Linked DNA regions of Homo sapiens. The protein of the gene in region 4 interacts with the protein of the main gene of each other region in a pairwise test. Each region holds a gene or a part of one and is shown on either strand. Other genes may lie near its edges. The genes, in order: SYTL4, DTNB, CIB4 and ZBTB9.

Region 1 (6,155 bases), on a different chromosome or scaffold from region 4:
CAATTGGCATTAGATTGCATTTTCAGTGGATCAGTGAAAGCAGAAACCAGATTTCACTAGAAACTAGGCTGAGTGAATGGGCAAAGAAGTAGAGGTGGTAAGTGTGGACTTTTTTTCCTCAGGATAATTGATGGTGAAAGAAAGTAGAGACATGGAGAATAGCTTGAAGAAGAGATAAGGTTAAAGGGAGCTTTTCTTTTAGAAGTACTTTTTCAAAGAGATGAGATTAGTATATATTTAGACTGAGGGGAAGGGACAAGTGGAGAAAGAGATATTTAAATTGGGAGGTGAGGATTGAAATTGATGATGTCTGAAGAGTCCTGTGAAGTAGGGGTGGAATCGAGAACTCAGATGGAGGAGTTCCCTCTTTTTTAAATCATTGAACAAATATCAGGCAACTTTATGTCTCTAAGCCTCAATTTTCTCATGTACAAAATGAGGACAAAAATAGTGTGACTCTCCTAGGGTTGTTTTGAGAATTAAATGCTTAACATGGTATCTGGCACATAGCCAGTTTTCAATAGGCATTTATTAATATTGTGGTTGTTATTAATACAGCACCTATTGCTTACTGGCAGGCACTGTGCTAGGCACTGAGGAGACAGGACAGGCACGGTTCTGTTATGGAGCTCGCTGCCTTTAGGAGCAAGCAAAGAAAGTGCTGCATAAACAAAGCTCAAGATAAATCTAGAGGTGGAAGGGGCTCACTTGCTATGGCTGACATCCCTTACAGGTAAAGGTGGGGAAGGGGGAGAGCTCCAGGTGTGGATCAAAGAAGCCAAGAACTTGACGGCTGCCAAAGCAGGAGGGACTTCAGACAGCTTTGTCAAGGGGTGAGTCCCTAGACCAGCCCCAAATTAACCAGTTTCAGAACAAGAGAGCTAAGAGAAGAATTTAACTTTCTCTGTGGATATTATCCAGTGTGTCTTACCACTCCCGGCAACCAAATTTGTTCCTGAAATTAGGTAATGACAAAACCTTCACCACCTTTGCACTGGTCTGGGCTGTAGACTTGATAATCCAAAGAGGAGGGCTGCAGACAGGTTCTGACTTTTGTCTGACTCATGTTCTTAATTAATTCTGGGTGAAAATCTGTGTCTTCTGACTGTCTAGATTTGGGAACTCAGGGCTTTGTTTCCCACAGTTTTTAAGCTTTCCGAAAATTACAGATTACCTACTGACTTAATTTATCTAGAAATCATGTTTGGCTAAGTTTATAGATATTACTATTGGTTTTATTTAAAGAGATAAATTGTCTAGTAGAAACAAAGCCAAATATTTAAAACCCATTTTCAGTGGAGCACAGAATAGCCTCACTAATACTATTATATTCATTTTCTCTCTAGGTTAAAGGAATTGAATCAGGTGAATGATCTAGTAGAGGTAGTGGGAACTCTGCTTCAGCAGATTCAAGGAGGGGCGTGTGTAGTAGGATCTGGATGTGGGTTCATCTTCTTGGGCTAGGCCTGTGGTAGGGGAAAGGGGAATTTAGAGAGATAACTGTCCGCTTTGAGTAGGCTGTTGATTACTCCCCGCCCTCTGCCAGATACCTCCTTCCCATGAGGAACAAGGCCAGTAAACGTAAAACTCCTGTGATGAAGAAGACCCTGAATCCTCACTACAACCATACATTTGTCTACAATGGTGTGAGGCTGGAAGATCTACAGCATATGTGCCTGGAACTGACTGTGTGGGACCGGGAGCCCCTGGCCAGCAATGACTTCCTGGGAGGGGTCAGGCTGGGTGTTGGCACTGGTGAGATCCCCTCCCCCATCCTCACTTGTTTGAAGGCTTCTTGTCTATTTTACTCCTATTACCATTCCCGCCCCCCAACACAAAGCTCCTCTGTGATGACAGTTGTCTTCTTTCCTTTCAGTTAACATTCAGCCAATACTTATTGAGTGCCTACTATGTGCCAGGACTAGGGGAAGGCTGAGCTCATGCACTGATATGTGCACAGATAAATGTGACCCTGATTGCCAGGAACTTCATAATCTTCCCACCAAAAAAATCTACAAACCTACCTATATGTATGTACCTATACATTCCATCTTCCATGCTGTTAATAATGAAAGAAGGGTCATTGCTAGCAAAAGCCAAGCTCTCTCCAAGTGCTCTGGGCCACCTCCCCCTACCCTTCTCGATGACCTCACTTCTATAATCGTCATCTCTCAGTTTCATCCTCCCTACCTACCAGGGGTGAATACAGATATGCTCTGGTATTTCCAATCTTATGAAACAAAAACAAACCTTTCCTTGACTACACGTTCCCCTTCTAGTTTCTTAGAAAGAATTGTCTCCACTTCTCACCTCTCCTTCAGCTCTCCTTCACTGTGATCTGGCTTTTGTCCCACCACTCTGCTGAGCAGTTGCTCTTGCCAAAGTGTTGTTCTCATCTCACTAGAATTTTCAGCACTATTTAACATGCTAGATCACTCCTTTTCGCTTGAAACGCTGAACTTCTATTGACACTGCATTCTGATTCCCTTTTAAGTCACTGCTCACCCCTTCTCAGTTTTCTTTGTAGGTGCTGCATTCTATACCCAAACTCTAAATGTTGGTGCTTGGCAGAGCTTAGTCTCGGATCCTCTTCTTTGCCCTCTCCCTAGTCTCTGCACTTGTCTATTAATATACTTATATATTAATAATCACACAGAATATTTAACATGAAGCATATAGACTGATGTTTTTACACATGTAAGCCAATTCATGTCAGTCCCCTGTTAAAACCCCTCAGTGGCTTTCTGTTGTGCTTAGAAAACAATCCAAAGTTCTTAACATGCCTACAGGCCCCTGTGTAACCTGGGTCCTCTGTTCCTTTCTGATCCGTCTTGTATCACTCTTCCCCTTGCTCACTATGCTTCAACCAAAATGACTTTCTGCTCTCCAAATATACCAAGCTCATTCCCACTTCAGAACCTTTGCAATTATTGTTTTCTCTGAATGGAAAGTCTGGTTCTTTCTTATCCTTCAGGTCTTGGCTCAAATGTCACCTTCTCAGAGAGTCCTCAGACCACTCCATCTGCACAGTAGTTCCTGAGTCAGTCACTATACATCACCCTGTTTATTTACATCATAATGTTAACCTCACTGTCTGAAATACTCTTATTGGTTTGCTTGTATATTTTCTGTCTTCCCTATTCAAATGAAAGTTGCCTGAGGACAGAGACTTTTTCTGCTTTGTTTACTAGTGTCTCTAGAGCCTAGAAGAGTACCTGGCACACAGTAGGCACTCAATAAATGTTTGCTGAATTAATGGATGAATATATAAGAGAATATGAATGGGGCCACATACGATCCTCACTTCTGACCTGGAGTCTGCAGCTAGAGGAGAGGTGTTTAGCTTTAAAAGAAAAAAGTTGGCCGGGCACGGTGGCTCACACCTGTAATCCCAGCACTTTGGGAGGCTGAGGCAGGCAGATCACGAGGTCAAGAGATCGAGACCATCCTAGCCAACATGGTGAAACCCCGTCTCTACTAAAAATACAAAAAAATTAGCTGGGCGTGGTGGCGCAGGCCTGTAGTCCCAGGTACTCTGGAGGCTGAGGCGGGAGAATCGCTTGAACCCAGGAAGCAGAAGTTGCAGTGAGCCAAGATTGTGCCACTGCACTCCAGCCTGGCGACAGAGCGAGGCTCCGTCTCAAATTAATAATAATAATAAAAGAAAAATGTTTAAGTACAGTTGGCAATAGCTCTGGCATGAGTTGTCAGGCACTAGAACTCTGTAACAGCCTCAGAATAAGAAGTCTCTAGTGACTGTGTGCCATTTGGAGTCTGATTTCATCAACCCAGAGTCTCTTGACAGAGTCTCAGGAATACAGGTGAGGGAGCACTTCCCAGACTGCTGTGGCCATTAGCCCATCTTCGTAGGAAACTGTTATGGGGTGGCTAATCTTGCTGTACAACCCATCTTCCCTGGTGGGCTGAGAGTGGGGCCCCTCTTTAGCCTCTTCTGGTGTTTCTCCTCAGGGATCAGTAATGGGGAAGTGGTGGACTGGATGGACTCGACTGGGGAAGAAGTGAGCCTGTGGCAGAAGATGCGACAGTACCCAGGGTCTTGGGCAGAAGGGACTCTGCAGCTCCGTTCCTCAATGGCCAAGCAGAAGCTGGGTTTATGAGTCCCTGTCCTCTTCTGCAGGTCCAGCCCTGGCGAGGGCAGGTCAGAGGAAGTGAAGAAATCAAGAGCAAAGATTTATAATTTAATGTGTATGTGTGTATGTGTGTATGTGTGTGTGTGTGTGTGTGTGTGTATGTGTACAAACATGTATTTTCTGCAAATCTCATTATGCTGGCTAGAGTGATGCAGACTTGTTCTTCTTTTTAAAGCAGTCTCAAGAATAAGCATTTCTTTAAAATGTTTCTGTGTATAATCTAGTTTATTTTCAGAGTCCATTTTTTCTTATGTCTTTATAAGGTTCACTTAACTTAAAAACAGCTTTTAAAACAACTTTTTATCTTCTGTCTTGCTATCATTGTTCCTACTTCCCTAGGAAGCCCTGGCTACCTTTCGCATTAGGACCAGTCTGGGTTTTAAGGCTCTGGGAAGCAGGGTTGGTTAGTAAAGACAGGAATGTTGGGGAGAGGTGAGTAGTTCCTTCCTCTTTCTCCTCTCCAATTTATGCTTTTAACTTATTTTCTACCTGGATAAACTTCTGGAACTTGGCTTTTAAATTTAACTTTTCTAGTTTTTAAGCAGTTTCCACCTTGCTTTGGTCTAATGCTTTTCTTTGAAATGCTAACAGAATTCCCAAGCTTTTTCCAGTTCTAGATATCTTTACTAGACCTTTGGGGGACTCTTATAATGGAGCTGCTTTTGAAAAGCACTTTAATTAGATAATGTATTTTGACTAAATCACGAGGATGCCCAGTGAGAGCTTCTAGCTGATCTCAGAGGACCAGAGTGACTGAGGGTAAAGTGTCTCACAGCCCATGCTGAATTTTCTGCATTTTAAACTGATACTGCAGTCATTGGAGAGAGAGCTCCTCATTTCTCGAATGAAAGATGAGATATATTCATCCTCATGTACCACATCTGTCTTAGTGTTTGCGTCTGGGGTGTGTTATCAAACAGAGCATGGTCTACATCCCACTGTGTCAACCAGAAGAGCCAAGTGTTATCTCAATTGGCCCAGTGTTTCTCCAGGCTGGGGACTGTTAAGGGCTCTAAGGGAATGTAGACAGAGTCTCCCTGTTATTCTGACTTCCTGCTTGATGAGCTTTCAGTTCCTGTTTTTGCTATTGTTTCCTAAATTTGACCTACATATTACATGGGTGTAGTGTGTTGAGGCTTTTCAAAGAAGGGTCTAGTGAGCTAAGTTTCATCTTCTGGTACTCATTGATCAAACTGACCTTTCTATTCTCATAAGCGTTTCTACCCAAAGTTGTGTGTGGAAGGAGTGTATAGCAGAGAGGAAATCCCTTTCAACAGAGTCAGCTGCTAACTGATTTCCTATAAGCACACTGGATTAAGGGCAGCCACAGTGGTTTCTACTGTATGTATGAACCGAATGGAGGAATGTTTTCAAAGATTGATTTGGTGTGGATTGCAATTGTAATGGAAGGCATAACTTGGGATCCCGGGCTGTAACTTGCTCTTTTGTTTCCCACCCCCCTGACATGTATGTGTGCTTTAATAAAGCTTTCTCACTTGTCAAACGTTTGTGTTTGTTAGTTCTATAAATGCTTTTGTCTCTGATGTCCTCACTGTTGCTTTTCCCCTGGCTTGAAGGATAAGAACCAAAGTGATAAATGCTCTTCCCTAACCATCCTATGCTGATTGAAGAAAATTCACCTTTCCCCGCATTGCTGCCTGATACCTTAAATGCCTGATACTTTCGCTGAGCTTGATCCCTCGTCCTTTGTATTTGGTATCTAAGGAGAACACTGAGAAATCATCTTTAAAGTGGCACCACTTTTCTATCTTGTAACAAAGGAACTCTTCCTTTAGCTTTGCAGACCCTCCTATACTGGAGGAAGGAGAGAGATGTTCATACAGGAGGTGAGGGGAGACATTCCCTGCTATAAGCACTTCTTTCTGGATCCTTCAATTTCTCTGGGAGGCGGGGACTTTTTCTTTTACTCCTCCTACCATTATGTAGTTTTGAGAGAGAAATAACACAGGTGCCAAGTAACCCAGCTCAGAAATAAGGCTCTTG
Region 2 (6,859 bases), on a different chromosome or scaffold from region 4:
AGGAAGTAGATACAAGTAGAACACAAAAGATGACCCTTTGACTGGAGAAGTTTATGATCTAGTTAATAAAGCAAGACCAGGCCAGGTGCGGTGGCTCACGCCTGTAATCCCAGCACTTTGGGAGGCTGAGGCGGGTGGATCACAAGGTCAGGAGTTCAAGACCAGCAGGCTGGCCAACATAGTGAAACCTCATCTCTACTAAAAATACAAAAAATTAGCCAGGTGTGGTGGCAGGCGCCTGTAGTCCCAGCTACTTGGGGAGAATGAGGCAGGAGAATCACTTGAACCTGGGAGGCAGAGATTGCAGTGAGCCGAGATCACACCACTGCACTCCGTCCTGGGCAACAAGAGTGAAACTCCATCTCCAAAAAAAAAAAAAAAAAAGACCAAAAATGCAAAATAAATAGATCAAATGAAGTGGCAGAAAAAGCTAATCATAAAACTTTCAGCATATAAGTATAATAAGGGTTTCTGAAAAGGAAGAGATTGTTGTGGACTAGAATAGCCAAATGGTTTTGTGGCTTCATGGAAGAATAAAACCAAGAAGGGAAGGTGTCAGCAAAGGACAGTAGTGCCTTCCTAGTTTCATTATATATCGAACCTGCTTAACACATGACATCTGGGAAGAGCTGCAGGGAATGATTTTCACGTATGATGATCTCATCTAATCCTTAACACTGTGAGACAGATTCGAATATCCCCATTTTACCCATGAGGAAATAGGCTCAGAGAGATGTTGTTCATGTAGCTGTTAAACGGCAGAGATTTAGGCCAGACGTGGTGGCTCACACCTGTAATCCCAGCACTTTGGAAGGCCGAGGCGGGCGGATCACTTGAGGCCAGGAATTCGAGAGCAGCCTGGCCAACATGGTGAAACCCTGTCTCTACTAAAAATACAAAAATAAGCCAGGTGTGGTGGTGCATGCCTGTAATCGCAGCTACTCGGGAGGCTGAAGCAGGAGAATCCCTTGAACTCAGGAGGCAGAGGTTGCAGTGAGCCAAGATCACGCAACTGCACTCCAGCCTGGGCAACAAAGAGAGACTCTGTCTCAAAAAAAAAAAAAAAAAAAAAAAAAAAGGCAGAGAACTGGGTCTTTCTGACTCCAAACTTCGTGCTCTTAATCTTCATCCTTCTATGTTATACTGAACAGAAAACAAAATTTTCTTTGGACATTTGAGGGTGAGCTGTTCTTTCTGTTGTGCATTAATGTGTTAGTTGCTGGATTCCTCCTAAACATCAGCTCCTCAAGGCAGAGATTTTAGTCTGTTTTGTTCATGTTGTGTTCCAGTGCCTGGTGCTTAGTAGGAGGTCAATAAATGAACAAATCAAAGGAAATAAATGGGGTGATGAGATAGAGAGTACCTTATCGGGGAGAGAAATGCAATGGCTGGTCACCCCAAGGAGGTGAAGGTAGGGAGAGCAGGAAGCATGAGGAGGAGCCAGCAGCAGCCCTCCCAGGGAGGAATTCTGAACAAGGCTCGGGGGAGTGAAAGAACCTGCCAGCTGATAAATGGCACAGCCTGAGTTCAACTCCAATGCCCATGGTTTAGTCTGAGCTGAACTGGTAGACTAAGGGAAGTGGAGTGGTCTTACTTAAGGAAGGGTAGAAGCCAAGTGGGAGATACAGGTAAGGAAGCTGTGACAAGAAAGGGAAACCTACAGGACAGTGGGTCTGGAGCATTCTTGGCCCATAGGGGCTGGAGTGGCTAAGACAGGGTCGTCTTTGGAGTCTCACGGGGCAAGGAATTTGTCAGCAAGGACCCTGAAATTGCTGAGGAAGAAACTGGGAGAAGAGGAAGAAGATTCTGCAGATTCTGAAATCGTCTAGTGAGTCTGAGCTAGGCCTGGGAGGAAGTGGACAGCAGCGCCAACGAGTTGATGAGAATGACATATGTGGCACGGACACCAAAAGGTCAGACTAGGCTGGGCATGGTGGCTTACACCTGTAATCCCAGCACTTTAGGAGGCTGAGGCAGGGGGATCACTTGATGCCAGGAGTTTGAGACCAGCATAGGCAACATAGCAAGACCCCATCTCTACAAAAAATAAATTAGCCGGATGTGGTAGTGCACACCTGTAGTCCCAGCTGCTTTGGAGGCAGAGGCAGGAGGACTGCTTGAGCCCAGGAGTTTAAGGCTGCAGTGAGCTATAGTCACGCCACTGCATTCCAGCCTGGATAACAGAGCAAAGCCCTATCTAAAAAATAAAAATAAAAGGTCACATTAGAGAGCAGTAGTGTTTCAGACATCCAGGAATGCTTCATAGAAATGTAGAAACAATTGACTTACCCACACAGACAAGAAAGAAGGCAGGAGGGCAAAAGGTGAAGAGATACACAGATAAATTTACACTGGTGTAAACACATGCTGCAAACACGCGCACACACACGCACACGCACATGCACATGCACATGCCAACCAAATCCTAGCATTCATGTGGAATGTTCCTGGCTGAAGACATAACAGCTGCATCTCTGGCCTCCCTTCACCTGCCCCTCCCTTCCCCAGTAGCTTTTTCCCATGGCCTCTCCTCAGTCCTTTTCACTCCACCAAAGCAAACCTAGGACTGCCCCAGCCACTGAGGCCTTGCCCTGGCCACGAACTCTAGCCCTTATCCTGGTTCGAGTCTGAGTGTGGGCCATGCCTCACATGGGAATCAGACTGGGTTTCCCTTGCCCAGCCCTCCAGGCCCCAGGGTGCTGTCTCTGCACCTGCACTCCCCTGTCCACATCAAACTGGGTTTCCCTTGCCCGGGCCTCCAGGTCCCAAGGTGCTGTCTTTGCACCTGCACTCCACTGTCCACATCAGACTGGGTTTCCCTCGCCCGGGCCTCCAGGCCCCAGGGCACTGTCTCTGCACGTGCACTGCCCTGTTCGCATCAGACTGGGTTTCCCTTTCCCGGCACTCCAGGCCCCAGGGCACTGTCTTTACACCTGCACTGCCCTGTCTGCATCTCTTCTGTCTTTCTGTGCCTCTTGCCCTTAGAGCTCCTTGTCTGTCTTTCAGTGCATATACCAGAATGTCTGTATGTCTATGTGAAATCTTTTTGTGGGAATGCCTGAATTTTTACGTATGTGACTTTCTGGTGTCATCCCTAAGGCCAAGAGTGTTAAGAGTTGGGGTGAGAGATGGTAGAGTTTTTTATGTTTGGCTCTCCACATTATATAGGTTCTAGGATATGTCCCTGAAACTACAACGTAGCTCATACATGGGCATTTTTATAAGACTAAGTGTTTTTATGGGTGGACCTCCTGATTCTCTGCCATGAGCTAGGCCTGAGATTTTACAGACCTAGGACTAACTGCAGTCACCTGGACACCAGAGATCTGTAACTGTCAACCGTAAAGAGAGAGAGTATATTTGCTTCTTTGGGGTTGAAACCATACTGACGTAATATAAACAGAATTTGGTCAGCACCATCAGGCAAACATAGTCTGCTCGATAAGGAAACTGTGAGAGTCAAATGGAACTTTTGAAGAATCTAGACCAAGCTGAACTTCCCTGCCATATTCACCCCTGCCTCACGCCTCTCCCTGTTCACCCCTGGCTGGCTGGCTGCATCCTGGGGAATGCTTCTGCTCCATCGGGGTACCCTTCCTCCTCTGCATCTCCTCAAGAGAAGTGTAACCAAGACACATAGAAGAAGCACAGACTAACACACCTTCCCCCATAGTACATCATCTCCACCCTCCACAGCCTCATGTTATGCTCCTGTGTCCTTCACAGTCTCCCCTCCCATACCCTGCCATCCCGGTGTGGGGGCTGTAAATCCAGTTTGCATCCATAAAGAGCCCTGGTGCAAGGCTGGACAGCAATGGCCCTCAGAGAACAGAACAGGCTCAGGAGGGGCCAGGCAGTGCTCGAGCCTCGGGTGAGCAAGCGCAGGGCTTTTCAAAGCAGACCATCTGCAGGAGGGGGACCGCCCTCACTCAAGGCGCAGTCATGTTCCCTTGGGGAACTTTCAGAGCTGAGTGGGCTTTGCCCCCCTCATGTAACTGCTCCCTGGATTTAAGGAGTTTTGATTCCATTTTTTAATGACTTTCCTTCTCCTGAGAAGCATCTGTCTCCATGGCTGCCTCGGGTTGGCTACAGTAGTAGAAAGTATGACTCTACCCTGCTGTCATACCTGGGTGGGAAAAGTCAACAAACGAGTAACGGGAGAAGCAAGGAAGCCCCTGGGGTGGGTTGGTCAGGGAAGCCCCTTTGAGATAGTCTGGGGCATGAGAAGACCTGGCCGTGACCTCAGTGTGTTGTTTCTGCCCATGCTGCCACAGGTTAGCAGAGGAGCCGGACACAGAGGAAGCTCAGGTGAGTACAAAGAGTCCTCTGCCTCCCCACGGCCCCTCCCTCCTTCCTCAGCATCTTCCCTTCCCCTCCCTTCCTGCAGTCACAGGTCCCTAGCCAGGGCAGTCCTAACAGGTGAAGATGCAAGAGCCCAACTGTCCCTTCCCTTTGCCCACCCCAGCCATGTGCCCTCCTTGCCCTGTTTCTAGGCTGTGTCCTGTCTTGCACAGCACTGTCTGCAGGCCTGGTCCTTGGGCATGGCCTGGTGTCCTCTGTGTTGGGATGGCATTGGCAGACCCGACACTGCTGGCTGAAACAGGGTGTGCTGAGCAAGGCCACCTCCCTGGGGAGCACTGCCTCCCATGCTCCTTTCCCACAGCCACTGCCCACTTCCTTCCTGGGATCCAAACCACAGCCAGTGCGTCCCTGGATTCTGTCACCCAGCACTGCACCGAATCACAGTCCCTGACCCACAGACATGTGATTCATGCAGGATCACACTGACTACAGGGCTGACCAAGCCGCTTCCCATGGTGCCCGGCCAAGCTGCACCTTCTCACTTCCTGAAGAAGCAATGCAGAAAAGTACGGACTGCTCCAGTGGCAGATGCTCATTGCCTTTAGGAATTAGTCATTCCCATTTTCCAGCTCAACACCTTAATTCTTTCTAGTCCCAGCACCAAGATATCAGACTTCTCCATTTTAAAATCTTGTCTTCCCTCCCCTCCTCCCACCCCCCCACCTCTTATATTTAAAAATTAGGCATCTTCCTCGAATAAAGAAGTCAGGGCCCTAGCTGCACAATCCAGAAAAGGGGTTTTTTCAGACCCTCCCAAGTCGTGTCATCCTGGAATAGCCTCTGGCCCTCTCTGCCCAACCGCGCCAGGCCATTGAAGGCCTCTGCCCGCTCCCCCGGGGCCCCTGCAGCCTCGGCCTGCGCTGACTCTGGATTGTGCGAGCTGAGGAGAGGGCAGCACCTGGGCCACGCACATTCTCTCGCTGCCCTGGAAATCACAGCGCCCCAGGGGCTTGGAGAGAGGCTTCTCCCTAAACTCACTGTGCACATTCAGGCAAGGCCCTTTCCCAAGCAAGCCTAGGCCGTGGCAGCCGAGGAGGGAAATCAGGAACTGACTCGCCCTGCAGGAGCCTGCCAGAGCCCCTCTCTCCCCGGGGCAGAAGGAACTGGGGTGCAAGGGAACGTGGCAGAGCCATGTGCCCCCACCGCCTTGTTGCACATGGAGGAAACCAATGCCCCACACCAGAAGCTCCATGCCAGAAGCAGAATTGGAGCCGGGTCTTCTGCCTCCTAATCCTGCGCTCTCTGACCCACATCAGGGGTGATGAGAAACACCAACAGCCGAGAGTTAAACTAAGAGTATAAAACTTGGGTGCCGCGGATTCATGGATGCCCAGGCCTGCGCTCTGCTGGCCGGGGGCTGAGGCTTCCTCCCTTTCCTCTTAGTATTCATCGGCACACCTCAGTCCTCCCTGCCCTTCTCCTGGGCCACAATTCTCCCCAAGAAATCACCCCATTCAAACCTTGCATTGTGAACCCAATTCTTTCTTCCACGGAAACACTTCCTGACCCTTAGGAATGATGGCAGAGGACCCTAGGTACCACCCTTCAGCCCAACGCTTGAAAGGCGCCCAGCATCCTAGCAGCCCCTCCCTGCAGGGCCTCCTGTTCACAGTAGATGTTAGCAGCTTTTGTCCTGAACCCTCAACAGTGCCCGTGACTAACGGTGAGTGTGTCTTGCGCAGGCACAGAGGACGAGGAGCAAGCTGGCGCCGACATGGCGAAGGCAAGGTCTTCCCCCAGAGGCACATTCCTCTCCATCTTTCCACCGCACACCTGGACCAGGCTTGCAGGCTGCCAGACGTCACTCCACCCGCCAGGGAGAGGGGAGCCAGAGCCGGTGGGAAGCGGGGAGGGGCTGCGTGGCACAGCTAGTGGGCCTCCCCCTGCACAGCCCTGCATGTACTAGCACCTTCATCACTCCCCTCAGGGCATGGTCTCATCTCCGCATCAGGAATTCACCTGGAGGTTGAAAAGAGAAAAGAAAAAGCACCAAGCTCTTGTGTGTTTGTGACCTGATGAAACACTTCCTGGCGTCTGGCCAGCACGTGGGGTGCTCCTGAACGTGGGGGCACAAGTTTCCTTATCTTTGACCTTTAAAAACCAACAGGTTTCTTCCAGCGTGCAAAGAAAGCGTCAGGCCTTGCTCGGCTCTGTAGACATTCACACCCTGGCCACGGTGCTAAAAATAGTCTCACACTGGTTAGGCTTCCGCCCGCCCCGTGTGATGCCGCCGCCTGCAGCCCGGGAGGGAGGGGCGGAGACCCAGCCGCGCGCCGCAGCCGGGCTGAGCCTCCTCGGAGAGGGCGGGAGGGTCTCTGCGCCGCGGACTCCGTGGCCGCCAGGGGGCGCGCCGCCGGGGGCGCTGCTCGCAGCCTCTCGCCTTAGGGGTCGATTGGGCTCGGGCACACGTGATCAAGTCCCGTTCCCGGTGATTTTCATTTATTTTTTCCTCCTCCCTGGGCTCCAGGATGTTATTTTTAGCAGAAGAACTGCTATA
Region 3 (7,695 bases), on a different chromosome or scaffold from region 4:
AGGTTCAGAAGGGAGGCGTCCATAAGCATGGCTCGCTTCCAAGGAACTCTTTCTCCGAAGGCCAAGGCAGAACAAATGAAAATGGAGGATCGATGTTCGAGAGAGAGCCTGAACCCTTCCCATACTCCTCTCACTCCTCTCGTCCACCACCCCATGCTCTCTCCTGGCATATAGGAGGAACCCCAGGGGTGGATCCATGAATGCCATTTGAAGCCCCTGGGTTAGAAAGAGGGGCAGGCATGGCCATGCCCCCTTGCTGAGAGTACAAACTGGTGCAACTCCTTTGAAGGACAACATTGTCTCACCCATCGAAGTTCTAAAATGTAGGCCGGGTGCAGTGGCTCACCCCTGTAATCCCAGCACTTTGGGATGCCAAGGTGGGAGGATCACTGGAGGTCAGGAGTTTGAGAACAGCCTGGCCAACATGGTGAAACCCTATCTCTACAGAAATACAAAAATTTGCCGGGCGTGGTGGCAGGCACCTGTAGTCCCAGCTACTCAGGAGGCTGAGGCAAGAGAATTATTTAAACCAGGGAGGCACAGGTTGCAGTGAGCCAAGATTGCACCACTGCACTCTAGCCTGGGAGACAGAGCAAGACTCTGTCTCAAAAAAAACCCCAAAAGCTTAAAAAAAAAAAAGGTACAGAACAGTATGAAGGGATAAATGCAACCATGTGAATGGGGTAAAAGGAGGATAAATGTGTTGGCTTATGTATGGAAAATTCTTCCAGAAGGCTAGATGGTAAGACAAACCAACAGTGAGCAGAGGCGGCCTTGAGGGAAAAGGACTGGGAGGAGAGAATGGAGACATTTTCTTTTCACTTAGAACTTTTACACTATTTGAATTTTCTTTTTTTTTTTTTAAATTATATTTTAAGTTCTGGGATACATGTGCAGAACATGCAGGTTTGTTACATAGGTATACACATGTCATGGTGGTTTGCTGCACCCATCAACCTGTCATCTACATTAGATATTTCTCTTCATGCTATCCCTCCCCTAGACCCCCACCCCCCAACAGGCCCCAGTGTGTGATGTTCCCCTCCCTGTGTCCATGTGTTCTCATTGTTCAACTCCCACTTATGACTGAGAACCATTATTTGAATTTTGAATTTTCTAGCCAGGTAGCATTTTTTTTTAGATTTCATTTTATTTTTATTCATGTGATACTTTTCAGAAAATTTCAATAGAGGTTATATGGGTAGTAGGATATGGGTCATTTGGAGTTATGTCATATTTTTCTATATTTAAAAAAGTGAGTGAATATTATTTTCAAAAGGGAAACAATGTCACTGGGTGACAGCCCCTGGTTAGCTCCCCGTGCCCTGGCCATCCCCCATCCTCATTTGTGCCTGGAGAGTCTTGCACTTGTGACAAAGTTGTTACCTGCCACCACCAGACCCTGAGTGGGAAATGTGGCTTCCGTGTGGTGACTGGGGAGGGTTAGTCCAAGCAAAGATGATGAGAGGGAACCTTCCCCCACCTTCCCCTGAAAGTGTCTTGGTGAGCTCCTTTATTCATCTAACAGGTTTTGTTGGGCACCTGGCTTGGCCCAAACACACAAACACACACACACCTCTCACACTATTCACTCTCCCCCACAGCCCCACGAGAAGGGTATTTGGCCACCTCCACGTTGAATGAAGTTTCTTCCCCACTGGACAGCGGTCCGCATGACAACAGGGAGCGGGGCTGCTCACCACCCCACCCTCAGGGCCTCCACGAGGCCAGCACATCACAGGCACCGGAGAAAGGGCAGGGAGGGAGGGAGGGAGGGAGGGAGGTGGAGAGGGAAGTCTGGGCTTCAGTCATGCATCCAAGTTTACCCAGCCAGTGGACAGCCAAAATGGGCTTCAGACATAAGTTCCCCAAGTCCTTTCCTTGTTCTCCTCATTATTCCAAAGAGGTTCTGTCCAGCTCCATGATCCTCTGAAGAAACCTCACTTTGGATCCCAGTAAAAGGTTAGCAGCCTAAAGCCTGGTGTCTCATTCAGCTCCAGTGGGGCTCTGCGGATCGTGGCCCCTGGGCCCTCCCATCCCTGCCTGCCGTGTCCCAGCCCCATCTCCAGGGCTGTGTGGCTCTGAGCAGGGACCACACTCAGGGACCAGCGTGAGGCTGTATTAGGGCAAGAATCCAGCTCAGAGGGAGGAGCTGGGAGAAGGAAAGAGGGGCGGGGCTTCTACTCACCACAGAATTTCATTTCTGGTCAGGAAGGTCAGGGCCTGCAACAAATCACAGAGAAGCGACGTGTCCACTCCATTCATCCCTGCTGTGGCCCCTGGGGAGTGGCGCAATTCAGAGGCTGGGGAGGAAATGCCCATTCTTTTGCTGCACAGCTGGGGGAACCCCAGGTTGAGGTGGATGCCTGAGGTGGCAGCAGGAGAGGAAATGGTGCTCTTTCTTACCCCCTAGTCTCTTACAGCCCTGGGAAGGAGGGCATTGGCACAGATGTGGAGAGCAGATCAGAGACAAGAGTGAAACTCTGGGCTCTGGTGCAGGAGACAGATGGAGGAAGGTAACCTTAGAGATCTCATCTGGGCCACATGGATGCAGATTTAGCAAAGAGAGGGACCACCGCTACCCCGCCTGGTAAACTCTAGAGCAAGCTTGTCCAACCCACGGCCTGCAGGCCACATGCAGCCCAGGACAGCTTTGAATGGGGTCCCAACACATATTTGTAAACTTTCTTAAAACATTATCAGATTTTTTCGTGATTTTTTTTTATTAGCTCATCAGCAAGCATTAGTGTTAGTGTATTTTATGTGTGGCCCAAGACAATTCTTCTTCCAATGTGGCCCAGGGAAGCCAAAAATTGGACACCCCTGCTAGAGCGTCAGGAAGGAATTTTCCCATTCATTCCACCTGCTTTAGGAAGCTCCCACCTCTGCCCAGAGTCCCTAGCCCGATCTACCCACCTGGTACTCTTCCAGGTCCTCCCAGTGCATCTGATACCTCAAGCATTGCCCCATGCCAACCACACCTTTCTGTCTGCCAGCAGTAGAACCTCAGCCTCAAGGACTCGCCAGCTGAGGCACCTCGTTGATCCAGTTGCCATGGTGACCTACATTCCACCTTCTGCCCATTCCACCTGAGTTACTGAGTTGGCAAAGAAACAAATTCTTTTCATTCCCATTCCACCTGAGTTGCTGAGTTAGCAAAGAAGCAAATTATTTTCAATCCCAAAGCTAAGAGGCATCAGTCCCATACAACAAGCAGAAAGGCAGTCCAAAGATGGGGCTGAGAGTCACACTGTCAGCTCAGGAGTCACAGTGCCTGGGCTCCAATCCCAGATCCACCCCATTGTAACCTGGGACAAGCTCTTCAATATCTGTGTGTCTTAGTTTCCTCATCTGTAAGTGGGGATGATAATCATGGGATTGTTGTGAGGATTGACGAATACAGGGAATAATGTCAGGCACATAGTAAGTGCTCAATAAATGCTAGCTATTTGAACCACAACCTAGCTGGGCATGGTGGCTCACGCCTCTAATCCCAATACTTTGGGAGGCCAAGTCTGGTGGATCACTTGAGGTGAGGCGTTTGCTACCAGCCTGGCCAACATGCAGAAACCCTGTCTCTACCAAAAAATACAAAAATTAGCTGGCATGGTGGCATGACCTGTAGTCCCAGTGACTCCAGAGGCTACGATGGGAGAATCGCTTGAACCTGGGAGGTAGAGGTTGCAGAGAGCCAAGATCGCACCACTGCACTCCAGCCTAGGACCCTGTCTCAAAAAAACAAAAAAACCCTACAACCTGCTGGGTGCAGAGGTGCACACCAGCACACCTGTAGTCCCAGCTACTCAGGAGGCTGAGGCAGGAGGATCGTTTGAGCCCAGGAGTTCATGGCTGCAGTGAGCGATGATCATACCACTGCACTTCAGCCTGGGTGACAGAGCAAGACCTTGTCTCTAACAAATCAAAATAAAAAATAAACAAGGAACCACAACCCCAGGACTATGCCAGGCATGGGGATGCCGAAATATATCAGCATAGATCCAACCTCAGGGAGTGGCCCAAAAAGTACAGAAAAGGGCGTTCCACCCCATCAGTCAGGGTCTCTGCAGGAACAAAGGGCACCATCAAATCAGGATCATGTGAAAAGGGTCTAAAAAAAGGACTCTCCACAAAGATGTGTTCAGGGTGTAGGGAAGTCACATGGATAACTGGATAACACAGACTCCTGAGCCCAACAACAAAGAGCTGCTACCCGACCCAGCACCACCCACCTGGAAGCACCACCCCAGCCCCACTCTCTCCTCTTTCTGTGATCTCCTACAGGGAAGAGAACAGGGCGGAGCAGGATGGGCAGACAGAGACAACGTCCAGCACAGGCATCAACATCACAGGCCAGGAGGGCCTTCCAGAAGCCATCACTCCCTCCCCTGCCTCCAGGAGGGTCTGCACACCCACCTTTGTCATGAAAGGCTGGTCTCCTTGTTCTAGAACACATCTTCCCTATGCTCTCCTGAGTAAACATCCCAGTGATTCTCTGATGACGCTTATTTATATCTCTGAAGTGCAACTGCCTGCTTTTTCTTTGACTGTCCTCCATGGGGATAGAGCCTGGCAGAAGGAAACCCGGGGCCCTCATTCCTTCATCTGCTCACCAGACACAGGTAGAATATCCACAGTGTGCCAGGGACTTGGCTTGACCCTGGGAGAGAGAGGACTGAACATGACTTCAACCCTCAAGGAACGTATGCTCTTCATGCTCTTTTAAGGGAGTAAGAAAAAAAAAAAAAAAAAAGAAATGTGTGCTCACCACACACACACACATACACACACACACATATATACACACACTAAAGCAGATGGAGGCAGATGTCACAGACGGGGAAGAGTACAGAGTTACGAGTGTTTAGAAGAGGAAAGGCTTGCTGGGCACCAAGCTTTCATGTAGGTGGTGGCATTTAAGTTGCTGTTATCATGCGGTGGTTAAGAACATGGGCTCTGAAATCTGAAAGGCCTGGCAGCATCTCTTCTTACTGCATCACCTCAAGCAAGTCATAAAATACTGTAAGCCTCAGTTTCCTCATCTGTAAAAGGGGAATGATAAATCCCTACTTCATAAGTATTGCAGGCATAAAATAAAATGATGGGTGTATGTGAAGCTCTTATTTAGCAAGATACCTGCTATGTATTGAGTTCTCAATAAAGGGTAAATTACCAGCCTGGCTAACATGGCGAAATCCCATCTCTACTAAAAATACAAAAATTAGCCAGGTGTGGTGGCGTGTGTCTGTAGTCCCAGCTACTGGGGAGGTTGAGGTATGAGAATCGCTTGAACCCAGGAGGTGGAGGTTGCAGTGAGCCAAGATCGTGCCTCTGTACTCCAGCCTGGGTGACAGAGTGAGACCCTGTTTCAAAACAAACAAAAATAAGGGTAAATTATATTACTACTTTTAAAAGTTGGGCCTGGGCCGGGCATGGTGGCTCATGCCTGTAATCCCAGCACTTTTGGAGGCCGAGGCAGGCAGATCACCTGAGGTCAAGAGTTCGAGACCAGACTGATCAATATGATGAAGCCCCATCTCTACTAAAAATACAAAAATTAGCCGGGCATGATGGCATGCACCTGTAATCCCAGCTACTCAGGAGGCTGAGACAGGAGAATCTCTTGAACCCAGGAGGCAGAGGATGCAGTGAGCCAAGATCTTGCCATTGCACTCCAGCCTGGGCAACAAGAGTGAAATTCCACCTCAAAAAAAAAAAAAAAGAGTTAGGCCTGGAAGGAAGGGTAGGACTTTTGCAGGCTAAGCCAGTGGTCAAACCCCATCTTCTGCTAACCCCTTTGAGCTTCTACCATCGTTGATTAAGCAGCTTCTATCTGCCAGGTGTGTGCATGTAAACTGTCTACATTCAGGCTCAAGCAGCTCATTGAGGGCAGTAGGGTGTCCTTGCTTCTTTGCTCTAGGGAAGGCGGAGGCTGGTGAGGTGAAGTGACGCTCTTGGGTCAGTCAGCTGATAAGTGGACAAGATGTGGGTCTGTGGATTCCCAAAGCATGGGGCAGGAAACTTGGGGAAGCCAGATGATCTGCAGGATCACACCCAGAAAGCCACTTCCTTCTCCAGCCTCAGTGCTCCTCATCACATCGAGGTGCAAGTGGCAGCTTGGCACTGGCTGGTTGTGACTTTGACACCTGGCTGACACTTGCCAAAAAGAAAACAAAAACAAAAGAGAGAGCTGCCCTGGAGCCCAGAGCTTTAAGCTACTGACTCAACCACTATTCATTGAGCGAGGTAGTGCAGACAGAGGTGAATGAGACAGATGATGTCCTGCCCTCACAGATCCAGACGCGCATATGTGCACCCACATCCCTTAGACAGCCATACGTGCTGCGGAAGAAGGAAAGCAGGGAGCGGGGGAGAGAGGGTGTGACGATGGAGGTGCTGGTGGTCATGGAAGCACCGGAGCAGAGACCTGAGTGACGGGGACGAGTGAACCAGGCTAAGAAATCAGGGCCAGTTGCACAGACCCAGATGACCACGGGATCCAGCGAGAATTTAATAACACTGGTTTTCATTATATTTGTTTATATAAAGGTATCTTCCATATTGAAAATGATGCAGGTTTGCCATTTATTACTGTGATCTAAAGTTTCCTCTATAAACATATCTGTTTAATTAAAAGAAATAGGAACCTATTCAAAAATATTAAGTAAATAATTATACAGGTGGTAAAGAAATATGCCAGAAATCATGAATCTCTCTCTCTGTGTCTCTTTTTCTCTCTCTCAGTCTCTCTCTCTCTCTCACTCACACACAGACCCCAAGGTTTGCAAACTCTGCTACCCTTCTCTCTCCTTGATCTTTCATCCCCCTAACTCCCCAACCCCTGCCTTCCCTGCACCCCCGCAGGCTCTGTCATTTCATCACAGAGAGGGTTTTCATTGGTTCCTACAATAACAATACTAACAATAAGAATATCACTTTACATTTGCATATTCCTTTATAATTTCAAAATGCTTTTTTATGTACCATCTCATTTGTCCCAGAAATAAAAGCTAGTGTTCTTTAAAAAAGAGAGAGAAATCCTCCCTCCATATGATTCTGCCTTTGATACACTAACCAACCTGCCTCTCTATCCATCTCCAGCCCATTACATCCCTTAAACTCCTCTTCAGCAGAGATTTTGAAAGGGGTATAATTGAGGAGGGAGGAGGTTCTGGGGAAGGGCAGTTCTACATCCTTCTCCTCCAGGATCCACCTCTGCAGGAACCCTCTGTGTGGAACAGAATGTATTCTTTGCAAGGTTTCTGTCACCTTGCAACTTACAGTTTTACAGACCGGTAAAACTACAACCCCGGCTCCGACCCTGATTTAGGTGTCTCTTAGAATTCGAGAAGAGTTGAAAAGAAACTTGCATTCAGAATATATAAAAAATTCTCACAATTCAACAATAAAAGGCCAAATAAGCCAACTTAAAAATGGGCAAAAGATTTGAATAGACATGTAAGAAGATACATAAATGGCCAATGAGCATATAAAAAGAAGCTCAACATCAGTAGCCATCAGGGAGACGCAGATCAAAAGCACAGTGAGATACCTCTTCACACCCACCAGCATGGTCAAAATCAAAAGAACAAGTAATAAGCGCCGGGCGTGGCAGCTTATGTCTGTAATCCCAGTACTTTGGGAGGCTGAGACGGGCGGGTCTCTTGAGCCCAGGAGTTCAAAACCAGCCTGGGCAAC
Region 4 (7,592 bases):
ACACAAATTACTCAATCCAGTCCACTGTCAGTTTAGGTTTCAGGGCACAGTTTATTAAAAAATTTTAAGTAACTGCAAGTCCCACCCCCGATTCCAGTATCTGTCCCCTCCATATCTCAACAGAGGGGCTGTCTATCATATGTGGGTGGGATGGGAAAGGAAGAGGTATGGTCCTACTATGCAAGTTACTCTCCAGCCTTCAGCTTGTGCTGTCCCAAACCTGAGTCCCTCTGACCAAGGTAAGTTGTTCAGAGAGCAGTGGTGCCACCCTGACAGCACTTTAGGACAGTGCCATCTCCTGAGATCACTAGTCACATTCCAGTCATTGTGACCAATATATTAGTTATCAGTGGTGGTCAAAGGTAGACCAGAGGCACAGGCTGTTGAGGGAAGACCCTCTATTAAAGAAGGTTCTAAGAATGAAACATGGAATGCTCAACTTGTTAAAGTGCTCAGCTACAACATTAAAAAAGTGTCGGGAAGGTGTCTATTGGTGAGAAAGCAAGGTACAATCTGAGGGGCTCCTGGAAAGATACAATTTTAAAAGTACACAAAAGGACTTCTGCTTAAATCATTCCAGCAATGAGAGAAAAAAGCTTAGAGCTTAGCCTCTGAATTACTTAAGCTGTAAATCAAATGTATCTCTAGGTGGAGACCAACTCCTTCAATTCCTCATGGAGACGGAATAAAACATTTACCACTGTCTTTTGCTCTAACTCTTCTCTCACTAAATAATTGAAAATCTGGTTTCCTTAATGGACATCACCACCACAAAAATGTCCACCATGGGCAAGTGATCAACTTAAGTATGAATGGCCTATAAACCACTTTCCTGCAGGGTTGGCTAGCCAAAACCTGGAGTGGGACGAGAAATTTGAGTTTCCACATCTGCCAGGCTGAGAGGCCCATATCTAAGAACAAGAGGTCCATAATGTATCTATTCTCTTGGCATGATTACAAGATCCATGACTGGTGTGCCATGGCAGTGAGGGAAAAGTATCCATCAGCAGCAGTGGTTATCTTGTTCTAGAAGCTAGTGTATAGCCTCAGCAGTCACTTGTAAGTCCAGTGGGCAGTGGCCCAGCCCTGGCCCTTGCATAGGTCCCGGTGGCGGAGAAAACAGGCATGGACTCGGAACCGACGGCCACAGTGGGGACAGGCATGCAGGGCTCCAGCATGGGTCTTCATGTGCTCTGTCAGATGGTGCTTCAGCTTGAAGCGCTTGTTGCAGATGCCACAGCCAAAAGGCCGAAGGCTGAAGGTCAGCATGATGTGCCGGTCACGCTTTGGCTTCACTGCAAACCGCTTCCCACACAGGCAACCAAAGCGTTTTCCATCTGCAGGGGGTGTCCCCCCTAGCTTCACAGGCCCATGCACGGCCTGGCCTGCTCCCCCAGGTCCTCCACCCCCTGACAGGATTTCATTCCCATGAAGATCCACTGGTTTCCAGGATGGACCCCCTCCCCCAGATGTTGGCCCTGGCCCTGAAGGCAACAAGAACCCTAGCTCCCCATTCCCTTCAGTGTCCCCTCCAGAAAACACTTTGGTTTCCTCCTTTGCTCCTCCAGGCTGAGTTCCGCTTCCTGATATCTCCTCCTTAGGCTCGAAGGGTTCCTGCTTAATGTAGAAGATTTTGGGGGGCAGTGCAGGAGGGGCAGGAAGCTCAAGTGGTGCACTCTCACCCTCTGGAAGCTTTCGGGGAGTAGCAGTCATGGGCAGTGGGTGGGGTCCATGAGGACGGGGAAAAACCCCTGATACTCTCTGGGGCTGAGGAGTCTGAGAGAGTGTGGCTGACCCCTGGTCCTCATCATCATCATCTTCCTCCTCCTCCTCTTCTTCTTCCACCTGAATTTGCAGCACTTCTCCCAGTTCACTTCCCTCCCCTCCCACAGGGCTCTCAGTGGAAGCAGGGCTTTCAGTAGAAGCAGAGGACTGTACTGGGGTCTGGAAAGGCGAAGAGCGAATGCACCAGCCTCCTGTAGAGGATGTAGTGGAAAGAAGGGCATGGTAGGAGTTTCCTCCACGGGCTGAAATTCCACCACCTGAAGTTTCTAATTCTCTAAGAATTTCTGAGCACTGATCTACTACCTGCCACATTTGAAGGCCACTGGCCACAAGGAGATGAGCAGGAAGAGCATCCAGTGGCAGGCGGAGACGCCCTGAATAAATGAGCTGGAGCAGCCCCTCGAAGGCATCGGCTTCAATGACACTCGGTAGAGTGAGACGAGGCGCATCCCCCAGAAGCAGCTTGTCATGGAAGTAAGGAGAGGCAGCAGCTAACACTGCTTTATGAGCCCTAAGTTCCCGGCCCTGCACCAGGAGGGACACATCACAGAACTTTCCCTCTAGCCTGTGGCGGTTCAGAGATTCCAGCAGAGACGAGCTATGCTGTGGGAACTCGATCTGGATTGTCCGTGGGGCTGGGTTGCAGGTCGGGGAGGCGGGTACAGGCGGCAAAGGTGTTGGGGTTTCCATGGCCTCCTCGAAGGTGACAAGAATTGGGAAGAGGAGAAGGGCTTGGGGGTAGACTCCACGCGGGATGAAGGCTGCAGAGGAAAAAGATGGAGGTCACAGAAGCCCTGGATAAAGGGAGCCACATCTTCTCAAACAACCCCCTCCCCACGAGCAATAACTGGAAACTTTTAAGTCAGTGGCGGTTTCTGCAAATCAGTCCCGCACACCAAGAAAGCAAAAACAAACAACAACAACAACCACCACCACTAAACACCAACAGGGGTTTTAACTTCCAGCCCCTGTGGAAGATAAGAAGGAGGTCCTTCAGCCACCAGCCTGCCTTCACCTGCCCAGAACAGCTCCTGCCCCGCCGCTCCGTTCCGCCTCACAGTGCCCACAGAGGTCTGCTCCCGGGAAGCCGCGGTCACCCGGACACCGCGAGTCCCGGCCCGATTGTCCTTCCCGCCGACACGCCCCCGCCGTTACACACGCGGCGCTGCCCTCGCAGTTACAGTGCCGCTACAGCTCCGTCCCAGACCGGAAGCCGCCGCCTCCCCGCCGGACACCGTCGCCAAGTGCGGCGGGCGGAGCTAGAGCCGTAGCCAATCGAGGAACGGCAGCCTACAAGCCTCGTGTTGATTGGCTACTGCAGACGAGGAGGGCGGTGCTAGTAGGAGGGCACAGGCCCAGGGTGTCCTCGCAACGGGCGTCCCGGGGAGCTGCTGAAGTCCTCCCCGCTGCAGAGGACCGAGAGGCAGGGCCCGGGAGAGAACAGCCCGGTCGGAGGGGGTGGGCCGTCAGCCGCCCCGGAAAGCTGCGTTTCCCGGTGATTAAGTGTAGCACCCGCCCCCGGTAGGTCCTGAGAGGGGCGAGATTAGTTGGGTACTTACCATGTGGGCCTGGCACTTGCCCACATCACTTTGTGTCTTCCCACCGGCCCTGCGAGGGTGGGGGTTGCCGTCCTCAGTTTCCAGGCGGGGGAAACGGGCTGGAAGCGTCACTCAGCTAATAGTAGTGGACCTGGGACTGGAACTCAGATTTGCTAAGGAACCAGGCAGGTTCTTTCCTGTTTTCTGCACGGGAGCATTTTAACCAGCAATTAAAGAAACCTTATTTCTAGGTAATTTTTAAAAGAGATAAATGTGGATATATACATGAACTCTTTTATCAGATAACGCCGCTGTTCCTGGCCTCGGACTAAGTGACACAGTGGTGAGGGGAGAGTTAGATTGGAGAAGTTTGGCCGGTGCAAAACTCCTGCTCTAAAATATAAAAAATCTCATTGGGAGGGGAGAGTGACATTCTATGAGGAGAGTGTGGCATCAGGTGGGGATATACGGTTTTCCTCTCAGGCTGTCAGCTTCCTTTCAGAAAGCAGATCTTACCACCGTACAGGTCTGGAGAGCCCTGCCTAAGAAAGTCGGCACAGCGATAAAAGAACAATCTCCGTTTATTAAACATGTTTTTTTCTGTTTCACCACACACTCCAGAAAAAAAGGAAATGGGGCTGGGAGTGGAGAAAAGGGGACAGTGAGGGGGGATAGATAAGGCTGGGAGTGGGGTGGGGAGGGAGAACGAGAAAACAAAATAAAACAGGTAGGAAGAGCAACTCCCTACCCTTGAGGTGGTGGGTGGGGAGGGAAGCAGAGGGGCGGGGGGGGAGGGGGCCAGGAAGCTCTGTACAGAAGGGTTGCCCCCAGCCCACACACACACACCCCGGATATGTACAGTACAAACCCCAGATAATTACAACAGCCAAAGAAGAGAGAAGGAAGGTTGGGGAGGGTCCAGGGGTAGGGCCTGAGGTGGGGAAAGGGCACAGGGATAAAATTTCACATATTTACAACTTTTATATAAGTATAAATTTGGCCCCGGCTGGGTGTATGTGTAGGGGGATGGGACTGAAGGGGAACTGTCCATACAAAAGAAAGAGGAGTAGAGTCTAGGAGAGTCTCAATACCAAACGCAAAAGGATGAAGGGGGCAAGGCTGGGTAGGGGACAGCAGTCAGGGAAGAGGGGGTGCCAAGGAGGGGCTTCTCCCCTCCCATGGCCTACCCACCCCAAACCCCATCCATCCTACCTCCCCTATCCCGCCAGAAAACTATGTACAGAGAAACACCGAAAAATCGTGGAGCTGGCGGGAGGGAGGGAGGTGGAAGGAGATTGGGAGGGGGAGGATGAGAGGGAAGCCCAGCCCTGTCCTACCTCCCCCAGGGGACAGAGTCATGGAAGGGGGCCCCCCAACACCCCTCCTCCAACACAGGTCCCCCCACCCTGGGGGAGAGAGACATGGCTTTTCCTAGAGTAAGTTCCCCCCTCCCCCTGGGAGTAGAGACCAAGAAGAGAGAAGGAAGGGGCAGAGGGGACTGTGTGTCAGAGTAGGACAGATCAACTAGCCTGTCCTCCCAACATACACACCCTCCTAAACCCTGACCCCTCACCCTAACCTCAATTCCACCCCACCCAACACACTGGGGGAGGGGGGGGCATAAGCCCCCTCACCCCGCTCTGGGACCAGCCGAGAGCAGATCAGGTGTGGGGAGAAGGGGAGACAACTCCCATTCCCCCCTTGCCGCCCCCTCCCTGCCCCGGTGGCCCCCTCCACCCCATCTGGGTTCTGGGTGGGGAGGGAGTAAATTTAAGAGTGGTAGAAGGAGAAGGAGTTTGTGCGTGCTGAGCCCCCCCAGACGCTCCTGAGAAATCAAGGGGTAATAGGGCCCCCTCACCCGGGGTCCCCTCCCCATAACAAGGGGGGCAGGGGAGGCCAAAATGGGGCGGTGGAGGGGAGTTAGATTGTCAGCTCTGGTTACTGCTAAAAAAATCACCCTGAAGTTGAAAGTTTGGAGGTGCCACACCCCCAGGGTGGGGGTGAGGGTCTGTCCCCCAGTGCTCAGGGGAACGATGAGGCAGAGGATGGGGATAGCACCCCGGAGTGAAGGGGTCTGTACGGGGTAGGCGGTGTCCTGGGGCAAGGGTCCCTGGGGGTCAAAGAGAGGGCAGCACCCCAATGGGAAGGAAAAGGGGGCGGCTGAGGGTCCCCACTCTCCCTCCTGGAAATGGTGCAGTGGTGGGGGTGGGCAATCAGTGTGCCTCCCAGGGAGGCATTCGGGGAGGCAATCCCGCTGTTCCTCGGTGATGTCCAATCCTGGTGGTTGGTGCTGTTACAGGGTGGGGTGCACAGGAAAGGAAGAGAAGGTCTCTGATGCTGGGTGGGCTAGTGGTCTGCGGTGTTTCGGAACTCGCCGTTCTCCGTAATCTGCAGCCGGGGTGGGGGTGGTGGGGCTGGGGGGGCCAGGCCATTCCACGGTGGGGCCAGCGTCACACGCGGGTTTGTTGGACCCAAGGGGGGAAGCTGCCTCTCCTGCAAGACACCAAAAAGGAGAGCGCGGACTTATTGAGACGCTTCAAGGGGGCCTGGATGCCAGTCCCCTAGCAGTGGCCTCCCCTATAGCCAGCCCACACCACAAGCCATGGACCACCCCCTCCTCCCAGGACAGTCCCCACCATCCTCCTATTTTGTTTCTCACCTGCAGTAGAAGTTAACGTCCTCTGGGATCAGAGAGAAGAGAATCTCACCCCTAGACTCCTAACAGGGGCCTTCAAGCCTTTAACCCAGAGTGTCACACCAGGAAACCAGATCAAAACAGCAAGTTCCCACCGCACCCCCAACCTAACCCTTCTCTGGCTTCACCTGTGTATATTCCTTGCCCATCCCACCCTCCTCCTCTTGAAACCCCCTCCCACCCATCCCCAATCCGAGGTGGGAACTTCATGTTGAGGAATAAGGGGAGGCAGTACAGCAAAACCTCATTAATCCAAACCCCTGTGGATTTGGAATTTCTTCATAATCTGAAGAAAAACTGAGCTTGCATTTTCCTTTATCTGTGAAGAAAAGGTGTACTAAGCAAATTAGTGGTGGAAATATGTCTGTAGGAGGGGATATTTAACCCATACCAGAAAACAGACTTTTGAATCCTATCTATTCATTAATGCATGCTCCCTGAGGAGTGGAAAAAGCCTTGTTCATCGAGTTCTGTATATATTTTGAAGACATGCATTTCATTAAATAGACACTGTCATTCCGTTTGTCACTTATTCACAGTGGCCATCTTCTCAAATATAACATTCCAAATTAGAGAGAGGTTTAACTGTACTGGGGGGAAAGGAAGGGGATTCAGGGAAGTGATATGGGAAGGGAAAAATCTTGTGGGAGGGCTGCCCCTCTCTCTCACAATTATGGCGGAAATGACTAGGAGCTTCTGCAGACACAGCATGCCCCAATCTCTGCATCCCTGGGAAGCAGAAACTGGCTTTATTCTTTTCCACTCCCATCTTCTTTTCAGTCCTTCTCCCTGGGCTCCCAATTAGAGGGTGAGGGGTACCAGACCAGCTCCTACCCCTGGTTCTACTCTCATCACCTCCTATAGCTCCTTGACCAACTCCTGGTTCCTGCCCTTAGCTCCGCCTTCTGTTCCTCTGCTGGGAGAAAAGAAAGCCATCTGAATTTCCCTACGCTTCTGGTTGGGAAATTCACTTCCTTCTCTCTTTGGCTGTTGTAATTATCTGGGGTTTGTACTGTACATGTCCGTGTGTGTGTGTGTGGGCTGGGGGCAACACTTGGCTTTTTAAAATTCAGGCTCAAAACTAATTTCTAATTAATGGCTGAGTTGCAGAGAGACCAATACCTACCACAAGTGGTTTAGAACAAATGTCCAAATTATTTCCTGGGCCACATGGCATTTAGGCTTGGTAATATAGCTATGTCTGACCTTAGGATACAAAACCTTCCAAGTAAAAGCTTCTATATAAGCTCTCCCTTCCATCCTAGGATCAAGGAGCTAACCTCTCAGATCACCCAAACCCCAGCCTTGGGTATGAGATACCCAGCAAAACTGCCTTCTTAGCTTGCTGGGTATCTCACACATTTTCTGCAAGTCAGTGAGAGGAAATCACTTATGGTAGGGTATCCTGAGTATGGCGGGAGAGCAGGGAAGGAACCCCCAGATTCCATTCCCTCTGTTTGTCTGCTGGTGACAGCACATAAGCATGCCCTGGACACCCCCATGGACCCAAATTTAGAAAGTGGATAAATTAGGGTGCCATTATTCATTTTACAAAAGAATTCACTGCAGGAGTC

Evidence for each region.
Region 1: the proteins of ZBTB9 (region 4) and SYTL4 interact in binary tests that used the Homo sapiens proteins (3 or more experiments, as listed by UniProt).
Region 2: the proteins of ZBTB9 (region 4) and DTNB interact in binary tests that used the Homo sapiens proteins (3 or more experiments, as listed by UniProt).
Region 3: the proteins of ZBTB9 (region 4) and CIB4 interact in binary tests that used the Homo sapiens proteins (3 or more experiments, as listed by UniProt).

Annotation. Positions count from the first base shown.
Region 1 is NC_000023.11:100,673,991-100,680,145, reverse strand, and holds the end of SYTL4 (synaptotagmin-like protein 4), read left to right. Parts: intron 1-733; coding exon 734-833; intron 834-1,546; coding exon 1,547-1,755; intron 1,756-1,876; coding exon of another isoform or gene 1,877-2,030; intron 2,031-3,969; coding exon 3,970-4,118; 3' UTR 4,119-5,655; downstream 5,656-6,155. UniProt on the Homo sapiens protein: Modulates exocytosis of dense-core granules and secretion of hormones in the pancreas and the pituitary. Interacts with vesicles containing negatively charged phospholipids in a Ca(2+)-independent manner.
Region 2 is NC_000002.12:25,376,739-25,383,597, reverse strand, and holds the end of DTNB (dystrobrevin beta), read left to right. Parts: intron 1-4,274; coding exon 4,275-4,279; coding exon of another isoform or gene 4,280-4,308; intron 4,309-6,044; coding exon of another isoform or gene 6,045-6,268; 3' UTR 6,269-6,355; downstream 6,356-6,859.
Region 3 is NC_000002.12:26,638,345-26,646,039, forward strand, and holds the start of CIB4 (calcium and integrin-binding family member 4), read right to left. Parts: upstream 3,023-7,695; 5' UTR 2,971-3,022; coding exon 2,917-2,970; intron 2,280-2,916; coding exon of another isoform or gene 2,224-2,279; coding exon 2,189-2,223; intron 296-2,188; exon of another isoform or gene 1-295.
Region 4 is NC_000006.12:33,449,984-33,457,575, reverse strand, and holds ZBTB9 (zinc finger and BTB domain-containing protein 9), read right to left. Parts: upstream 3,001-7,592; 5' UTR 2,801-3,000; intron 2,547-2,800; 5' UTR 2,476-2,546; coding exon 1,054-2,475; 3' UTR 32-1,053; downstream 1-31. Other genes in the region: SYNGAP1 (ras/Rap GTPase-activating protein SynGAP), read right to left, coding at 5,670-5,816. UniProt on the Homo sapiens protein: May be involved in transcriptional regulation.